3 separate regions of the Homo sapiens genome follow, and all the other regions are linked to region 1. The links come from fine-mapping of genetic effects on gene expression. A gene starts in region 1. Each other region holds a variant in brackets. All regions are shown on one strand. Distances are between the middles of the regions.

Region 1 (2,849 bases):
AGTGGGGAGACTCATATCATCACAAAAATAAATGATTAATTACACATTTTGACATTGCAATGACAGAAGGATGTTTGGTGCTATACATCTTTAATAAAGCTGGTATACTGCTACTAATTTTTAGGTGGTGATTATAATGAATAAACACAAAGGATTATTAGAAGGCATCCTGAGGATAAAACCTTTTAAGTACCACATAGTTTCCTATTTAGGGGAACAATATTCCATTAAAATTCACATTTTTGGAATTTGATTTCTTTCTTTTAAAAATTTATTTATTTTTTGCCCTTTTCCCCAAGTTCTGATGGAATTTGGTTTCTGTTTAGTAATGTTTGCTAGAATATGTACTTTTATATGAAACATTTGCATATTTGTTATTAGTACGATTAATCGTATTGTCACTGAACAAAAAGTAGAAGTAAATAATTTTGTTTGACGGGTAAACCTCTTCCATGTTCAGCCGATCTTTTTTTTTAAAAAAAATTATTATTATTTTCCCCAGATCAGAGATGTACAGCCCATCTTTCAATGATGATTCTACTCAACTGCTCCTGTGCCATCTCTGGTCCAGAGGATGTAATTCCTGCTAACTTGAAAGGGCAAAACTGACAAGTGCCTATTTCAGTAGCTTATTACCACTTAATGACAGAGGATAGCTTCCAGGAAAAGTACTATAATACATCGAAAAGGGGACTTTTAACTGTATCTGGTAGAATTCCAAAGCATTTAACACCCACTAGGGTCAACGCGGTGACTCCCATCCTACTGAAGTGCAGCCACTTCTGGCCTGGAGCGCAGCTGCTGGTTAACAGCTGTCCAACCTCAGTGCTCCCCACTCGAGACCTTTAAGAGGAGCTCACCGAACCCAATTAAATAACATATATCGTTAGTTTCAAATCACGCTTCTTGTGTCGTGCAAATTTATCTGGAACGGAGAGAAGTACCTCGTGCTTCTCGGGACTTCATCAACTCGGTTTTGGCAATTTTCTTCCTACTTCTTTATCCCTTTCTCTTTCCCCCCATGTACCACTCTAATCTGCCAGACGGAACAATTTAGCCTTTTTCAACTAAAGGACCGGAGGAAGGAAGAGTTAGAGAACTGGACTTGGGGATGAGCGGTGGTGTTAAACATTTACCGGGAGAGGGGAAGGGGCGGGTGCGCGAACAAAACCCCCAGGCAACGTTCCTCCAAGTGTGCGGCCCTACCTCCCGGTTCCCCCGCCTCGGGCAGGGCCGGACTGCCCAAGGCAGAGGCCAGCAGAGGAAGGAGGGCCGGAGCCCCCGCCCGCACCTTCCCCCACTCCAGCCGCATTTTCCCCGAACTCGTACGGGCGCTGGCCTCCGGGCAGCAGCCGGCCCGCGGGTCCCCGCGGGAGGAAGGCGAGCCAAAGCCCGGCGGCCACTCGGATTGTTACGCGCATTCAACTCCGCGGAGTGCGGGGCGCTGGGGTGCAGAGGGGTCTCCGCCCGGCGCCACCCAGGTCCCCAGGCGGGAAGCGGCTCAACTGGGAAAGCAGCCGGCGCCCGTGGTCTCCGGGCCGGCCGCCCGCGTTCTTCCGGCCAGCCCCCCGCGGAGGGGAGGGGCGCCGACGCCGCGTTCTCGGGGCCCCGCAGCCGGCGGAAGGGCCGCGCATCGCGGAAGCGCGGCGGCAGCTGAGGATCAGCTGCTGGAGGAGGCGGAGAGGCAGAGGGAGGAGCCTCGGGGGGAAGGAGAGGGAGGGGACCGTCAGGAAGCCGCGAACGCCGCCGAGTGTCTGCACACCTCGCTCTGCCTGCCATGGCTGGTTAAAGAACCATCCGGATCGCAGCGCGGGGGGAGGGCCGGGTGGGGGGAGCAGCGGCCGCGCGTGAGGCCGAGGGAGGGGCGGCGGCGCGAGCGGCGGCGGCGGCGGTTCCAGCATGAAGAGGAGAGCTGGCCTGGGGGGCAGCATGAGGTCAGTGGTGGGCTTCTTGTCCCAGCGGGGCTTGCATGGGGACCCCCTGCTCACTCAGGACTTTCAGAGGAGACGCCTGCGGGGCTGCAGAAACCTCTACAAGAAGGACCTCCTCGGCCACTTCGGCTGTGTCAATGCCATTGAATTCTCCAACAATGGAGGCCAGTGGCTGGTCTCAGGTAAATCAACCCCCTTCCCCTCCCCGCGCCTCCCCGCACCCTCCCAGCCTCCCCCTCTCGCTCTCCCCCGTCACCCTCCTCCTGCCCTCTGTCCCCACCCCCTCCCTTTCTCTACCCCCTTCTGCGGTGGGAAGGTTTGGTGTCAAATTAAAACCATTGCAGGGGGAGGGGAAGGAGAGGATGTCTTCTATAAAAAAGACCTAAAATGGTTGACAGCTCCTTAATTCGCTTTATCCCAAGTGCAAAGTGATCTCTCCTGATGCCTGCCCTGAAAGTGTAGGTCGGGGAGGGGGGCGAGGTTACCGCTCTACAAAGTTTGACGGCAAACTCTTCCTCCGCGTACTTTAAAAGGTGCTGGGGGCATTTTGGGGATGTGGAGGGTGAGGAGGCCGAGGAGCGCCGGAGGCAAGGGGGAGCTGAAGCCCCCGTCGCCGGCGTTAAGGAAAAGGGGTCTTGGGGCTGGGAAGCGGGCGGTGACAGACCCGGACGCCGAGGGGCCGGGGGCTGCGACCCGGGGGCTGGCGGGGTCTGCAGAGGGGAAGTGACTGGGGCGGTAGGGTCGCTGTGGGCCGCCCCCCTCGGCGCTCTTAGAGGCCCAGCACCATCGCCTTTCGTTCGGTTGTGGCCTCTTCTGCGTCTTGTTTTTAATACAGTTTCGAGAGTGGCGAGGGCTGTGGAGGCTAAAGGGCACCAGCCTGAACTTGAATGCGCAACTTGCGAGGCAGGCGGTAGGGTG
Region 2 (2,500 bases), 99 kb after region 1:
CTCCCCGCCTCCCACAGTAGATGAGTCTGCCGACAACGCCTTCCACCTGGGGCCCCTGCGGGTCACCACCACAAACACAGTAGCCTCAACTCCACCAACACCCACGTGTGAGGATGCAGCCTCTCGCCAGCAGCGTCTGTCTGCTCTGCGGCGCTACCAAGACAAACGCCTCCTGGCCCTTTCCAATGAGTCCGATTCTGAGGAGAATGTCTGTGAGGTGGAACTAGACACAGATCTCTTTCCCCGGCCACGGTCACCCAGCCCCGAAGATGAATCCAGCAGTTCCAGCAGCTCTAGCAGCTCTGAGGATGAGGAGGAGCTGAATGAACGCCGAGCCTCTACCTGGCAGCGGAATGCCATGCGGCGCCGACAGAAGACAACCCGAGAAGACAAGCCCAGTGCCCCAATCAAGCCCACCAACACTTACATTGGAGAAGACAACTATGATTACCCCCAGATCAAAGTGGATGACCTCTCCTCCTCCCCAACCTCGTCCCCTGAGCGGAGCACTTCCACGCTAGAGATTCAACCAAGCCGGGCATCACCAACTTCTGACATAGAATCAGTTGAGCGAAAAATTTATAAAGCTTACAAGTGGCTCCGCTACTCTTATATCTCCTACTCAAATAACAAAGATGGAGAGACCTCCTTGGTGACCGGGGAGGCAGATGAAGGGAGAGCAGGAACCAGCCACAAAGACAACCCAGCCCCTTCTTCCAGTAAGGAAGCCTGTCTAAACATAGCAATGGCCCAGAGGAACCAGGACCTGCCACCTGAAGGCTGCAGCAAGGACACTTTTAAAGAAGAGACTCCTAGAACTCCCAGCAATGGCCCAGGCCATGAGCACAGCAGCCATGCTTGGGCAGAGGTGCCAGAGGGTACCTCTCAGGACACTGGCAATAGCGGCTCTGTAGAGCACCCTTTTGAAACCAAGAAGCTCAATGGAAAGGCCCTGAGCAGTCGGGCTGAGGAGCCGCCTTCTCCTCCTGTCCCCAAGGCATCTGGCTCCACTCTCAACAGCGGGTCTGGCAACTGTCCCAGGACCCAGTCTGATGACAGTGAGGAGAGGAGCCTCGAAACCATCTGTGCCAACCACAACAATGGACGCTTACACCCTCGTCCCCCTCACCCTCACAATAACGGGCAGAACTTGGGGGAGCTGGAGGTGGTGGCCTACTCTTCCCCAGGACACTCAGACACTGACCGTGATAACTCGTCCCTGACAGGGACACTCCTACACAAAGATTGTTGCGGGTCTGAAATGGCCTGTGAGACCCCCAATGCTGGAACAAGAGAGGACCCCACTGACACCCCAGCCACAGATAGTAGCAGGGCTGTTCATGGCCACAGTGGCCTCAAAAGGCAACGAATTGAATTGGAAGATACAGATTCAGAGAATTCCTCCTCAGAGAAGAAATTAAAAACATGATAAATACAAAGGGAAAACAAAAAGCTACAAAAGTAGCCTTACAAAAAAAAAAAA[AT/T]TGTTTAGTGAATACAGAGGAAAGGAAAAACAAGTATTAAAGGCACATGAAACCAGGGCCTGAAATTTTGTGTCTGATGCTGCTCCCTTCTATCCAACATTCAACAACGGGTCTGAATGTCTAGCTGGCCATTGGCTTGTGCTGTGTTAAGAAAGGGGAAAAAAAAATAACCCAAGTGACTCCTTTCTAGTGAGACGTGAGCGTAGTGTGCCGCGCAAGGCTCTGTGGAAGTAAATCTTTGTTGAGACGTTCGACTTGTTCTTGTGTACGCACAATGGCACGTGTGCGCTTATTGTCTCATAAGACCTTCCTTTTAGTTCTCCATCAGAAAGGACCTATGAATTTGTACTTTTTGCCATCTCACCCTGTTTACATGCCATAGGTGTTCTGGTCTGGATGATGGGTGCCTGTTAAATCAGGTTGTGCTGCCAGTGAGTTGTAGATTTATGCTGGAAGAATGGAGAATGGAAACAGGCCTTCAGCCCATTGGCTGCGCTGGAGAGGAAAGCATGGTTCCTTTCTTAAAGAAATCTTCCATGTTTTCTCTAAGTAACACTTCTTTATTGAGCATTTAATGTGGACATACTATAAAAAAGAATTTTTAATGCTAATGAGAGGTTTAGCACTTAAGATCAGATTCAAGAGAATATAGATTCCTGATAAATTTCACTGTTTGCAAATTGAGCAGTGCTGCAACATGTACTGTATGAAGGCCATAAAATAGAGCTAGTCATGGATAACAGACTTTAACCAGTTAGGTGCTAGATCCTAAGAGGCACTCACAAGGCCAGCAGGTGCTTCCTTGGCTCCCATGATCGATCGAGGCATAGTGAAAGAAGGGCAAAGACAGCTTTCCAGAGCTTTGTGCTCAGGCTACTAAAGTAGTTGTTATAGGTGTGTTAACGAAGAAGCTTAGTGAGGAGCAGAATGTGGTACTATATTCATTTAACTCAACCCAGAACCATTGGTCAGAATTGGTGGGACTGGCATCTTCCCTCAGACTTGCAGTTGATAGA
Region 3 (2,849 bases), 540 kb after region 1:
ATTTTTGACAAAAATCAAGGCTGAAAATTTTCCAAATTTGTTAAAAACTATAAATACCACAGATCCAGGAATCACAATGAACCCCAATCAAAATAAGCAAGGGAAATCACACCATCATACCAAAGTACATCATAATAAATTACTAAAATTAGTAATAAAGAGAAAATCTTAAAAGTAGTCTGAAAAAAGCTGTATTTTATAGTGTCATAGAGAGTATAGGAAATACTGCAGACTTCTGATCAAAACAATGCAAGCCAGAAGACAATGGAATACTTTCTTTGATATACTGAATGATACACAAATCAAATTCTGTATCCAGCGATATAATGAAGACTTTTTGAGATAAATGAAAGCTTAGACAATTCACCATCAGCAGATCTACCCTAAAGAAATGTTAACATAAGTTTTTTACAAAGAAGGAAAATAATACTTGGATCTACACAAAAGAATGAAGAGCACCAGAAATGGGAAACATGAGGATAAATATTAAAATTTTTCATTAAAAATTTCTTTAAAATATTAAAGCAAAAATAATAAAGTACTGTAGAGTTCATAACATATGCAGAAATAAAATTTATAGCAGCAATAGCACAAAGGACAAGAGCATGTAGCTAAAAGTCAATGGTCTAGATAAAATGAAATAACAAAAAAGAACCCTCACTTCAAAAGAAGGCAAGGAAAGATGCAAAAGGTAACAAAGAACAGATGGAATGAGTAGAAAACAAATAGTAAGATGACATACCTAAACCAAACATGTATGTTACATGTACTTGTAATTAAATGCAAATGGTCCAAATACCCCAATTAAAGGTCAGGCACTATCAGACTGGATTTAAAAAGCAAGAAATTCATTTTAAATATAAAAACACAAATAGTTTAAAAGTAAAAGAATGAAAAAAGATATGCTGTGCAATGCTTATCACAAGAGAGCTGGAGTAGCTATATTAATAATAAAAAAAGAAGACTTTAGGACAAGGAATAGCACCAGAGATAAAGAGAGACAATTTCATAGTGACAAAAAGGAAAATTTAAGCCAGGTGCAGTGGCTCACGCCTGTAATCCCAGCACTTTGGGAGGCTGAGGCAGGCAGATCATGAGGTCAGGACATCGAGACCATCCTGGCTAACACAGTGAAACCCCATCTCTAATAAAAATACAAAAAATTAGCTGGGCGTTGTGGTGGACGCCTGTAGTCCCAGCTACTCGGGAGGCTGAAGCAGGAGAATGGTGTGAACCCGGGAGGCAGAGCTTGCAGTGAGCAGATATCACGCCACTGCACTCCAGCCTGGGCGACAGAGCGAGACTCCGTCTCAAAAAAAAAAAAGAAAAATTTAAGAAGATTTAACAATTCTAAATGTTTCTGTACCTGCTAACAGAACTTCATAATATATGAATCAAAAACTGACAAAAGTTAAAGAGGAAATAGACAAAACCACAGTCATAGTTTGAATATATACATTTCATCATTCCTCTCTCAAGAATTAATAAAACAAATAGTCAGAAAAATCAGTAAACCAGTAAGGATACAGATGATCCCAGCACTTTGGGAGGCCAAGGCGGGTGGATCACAAGGTCAAGAGATCGAGACCATCTTGGCCAACATGGTGAAATCCCATCTCTACCAAAAATACAAAAATTAGCTGGGCCTGGTG[G/T]CATGCAGCTGTAGTCCCAGCTACTTGGGAGGCTGAGGCAGGAGAATCGCTTGAACCCAGGAGGCGGAGGTTGCAGTGAGCTGAGATCATGCCAGTGCACTCCAAGAAAGCTAGGTCAATTGCTCATATGACTAGCATTTCTACTCCTAGGTATGTACCCAAGAGTATTGAAAATCCATGTCCACACACACTGTATATGAATGTTCATAGCAGCATTATTCATTTTAGCCAGAAAGTGGAAACAACTCAAATGTGCATCAACTGATGAACAGATAAACAAAATGTGGTTTATCCATACCATGGAATATTATTCAGCTATGAAAACAAATGACATTCCAATACATGCTACAACATGGATGAACCTTGAAAACACTATGCTCACTGAAAGAAGCCAAACACAAAAGGTCACATATTGTATAATTCCATTTATATGAAATGTCCAGAATAAGCAAATCCATAGAGATGGATAGTAGAATAGTGGTTGCCAGAGGAAAGGGGAAGGAGGAATGGGGAGTGACTGCCAATGCATATGGAGACTCTTTTGGGGGTGATGAAAATATTCGGAACTAGATAATGGTGATAATTGCACAATTTTGTGAATATACTAAAAATCATGGAATTGTACACTTTAAGAGGGTGAATTTTATGGTATGTCAATTATATCTCAATTAAAAAAATAAGTATTTGGTATAAATGATTTTATGCCCCAGTGTTGATAATGGATAAAGGCTTAATGAGAGACTCTTCTCAGCAATATGGTTCAACTCAGACCAACTCCTCCCTACAAAGGCTACAGAATCTATTTTTTCAAAAAGTCCAGCTCTTAGGACCTTTGTTCTTAGCTGTGGTTGCTACCAGGCTGCCTCTGAGGCCTGAAAAATCGTGTCATAGGCAGTAGAGGTTGAATTTTGTATTTTAGTATCTATGCTTACTTTCCTGCAGTATGAGTTCTTTAAAGTCTATTGCTAACTTGCACTCATAGGCTGAATTGAAAGAATAAAGGATCACAGTGAGGCACTTTACAGTTTATAAAAAAGCATGTTCACATTCACCACTCTTTTGATTTTACGCATTTAGATTTAAATTGGGCGTTCTGAATGGCCACACAACAGCAGGCCCTAAACTCTAGCCCCAACCTCTCTGACTCCAAAAATCGAGTCATTCTTAAAACAACTAAAATGTGCTTCTGAGCAAGTT

Alleles and levels. Alleles are on the strand shown, and positions count from the first base shown. SD is a standard deviation of normalised expression in the study named. Not every link is listed here.
In carriers of allele T in region 3, the expression in thyroid of the gene that starts at base 1,759 in region 1 tends to be lower than with G alone (large effect, 0.77 SD a copy in GTEx).

Evidence for each region.
Region 2: its variant is fine-mapped to the expression of DCAF5 in whole blood (INTERVAL, PIP above 0.99).
Region 3: its variant is fine-mapped to the expression of DCAF5 in thyroid (GTEx, PIP above 0.99).

Annotation. Positions count from the first base shown.
Region 1 is chr14:69,152,029-69,154,877 of GRCh38, reverse strand. It overlaps DCAF5 (DDB1 and CUL4 associated factor 5), which reads left to right and starts at 1,759. Exons shown (of 9, transcript NM_003861.3): 1 at 1,759-2,113. The coding sequence starts at 1,900. RefSeq lists silencers at 1,315-1,954, 2,775-2,824.
Region 2 is chr14:69,052,786-69,055,285 of GRCh38, reverse strand. DCAF5 (DDB1 and CUL4 associated factor 5) reads left to right here. Exons shown (of 9, transcript NM_003861.3): 9 at 1-2,500. The coding sequence ends at 1,429. Among named protein-coding and RNA genes, the nearest start is that of ACTN1-DT, 74 kb to the right of the region's middle. RefSeq lists an enhancer at 1-389. The variant AT/T (reference allele first, on the strand shown) is at 1,484.
Region 3 is chr14:68,613,827-68,616,675 of GRCh38, reverse strand. It overlaps a transcript of RAD51B not described here. Among named protein-coding and RNA genes, the nearest start is that of RAD51B-AS1, 70 kb to the left of the region's middle. The variant G/T (reference allele first, on the strand shown) is at 1,653.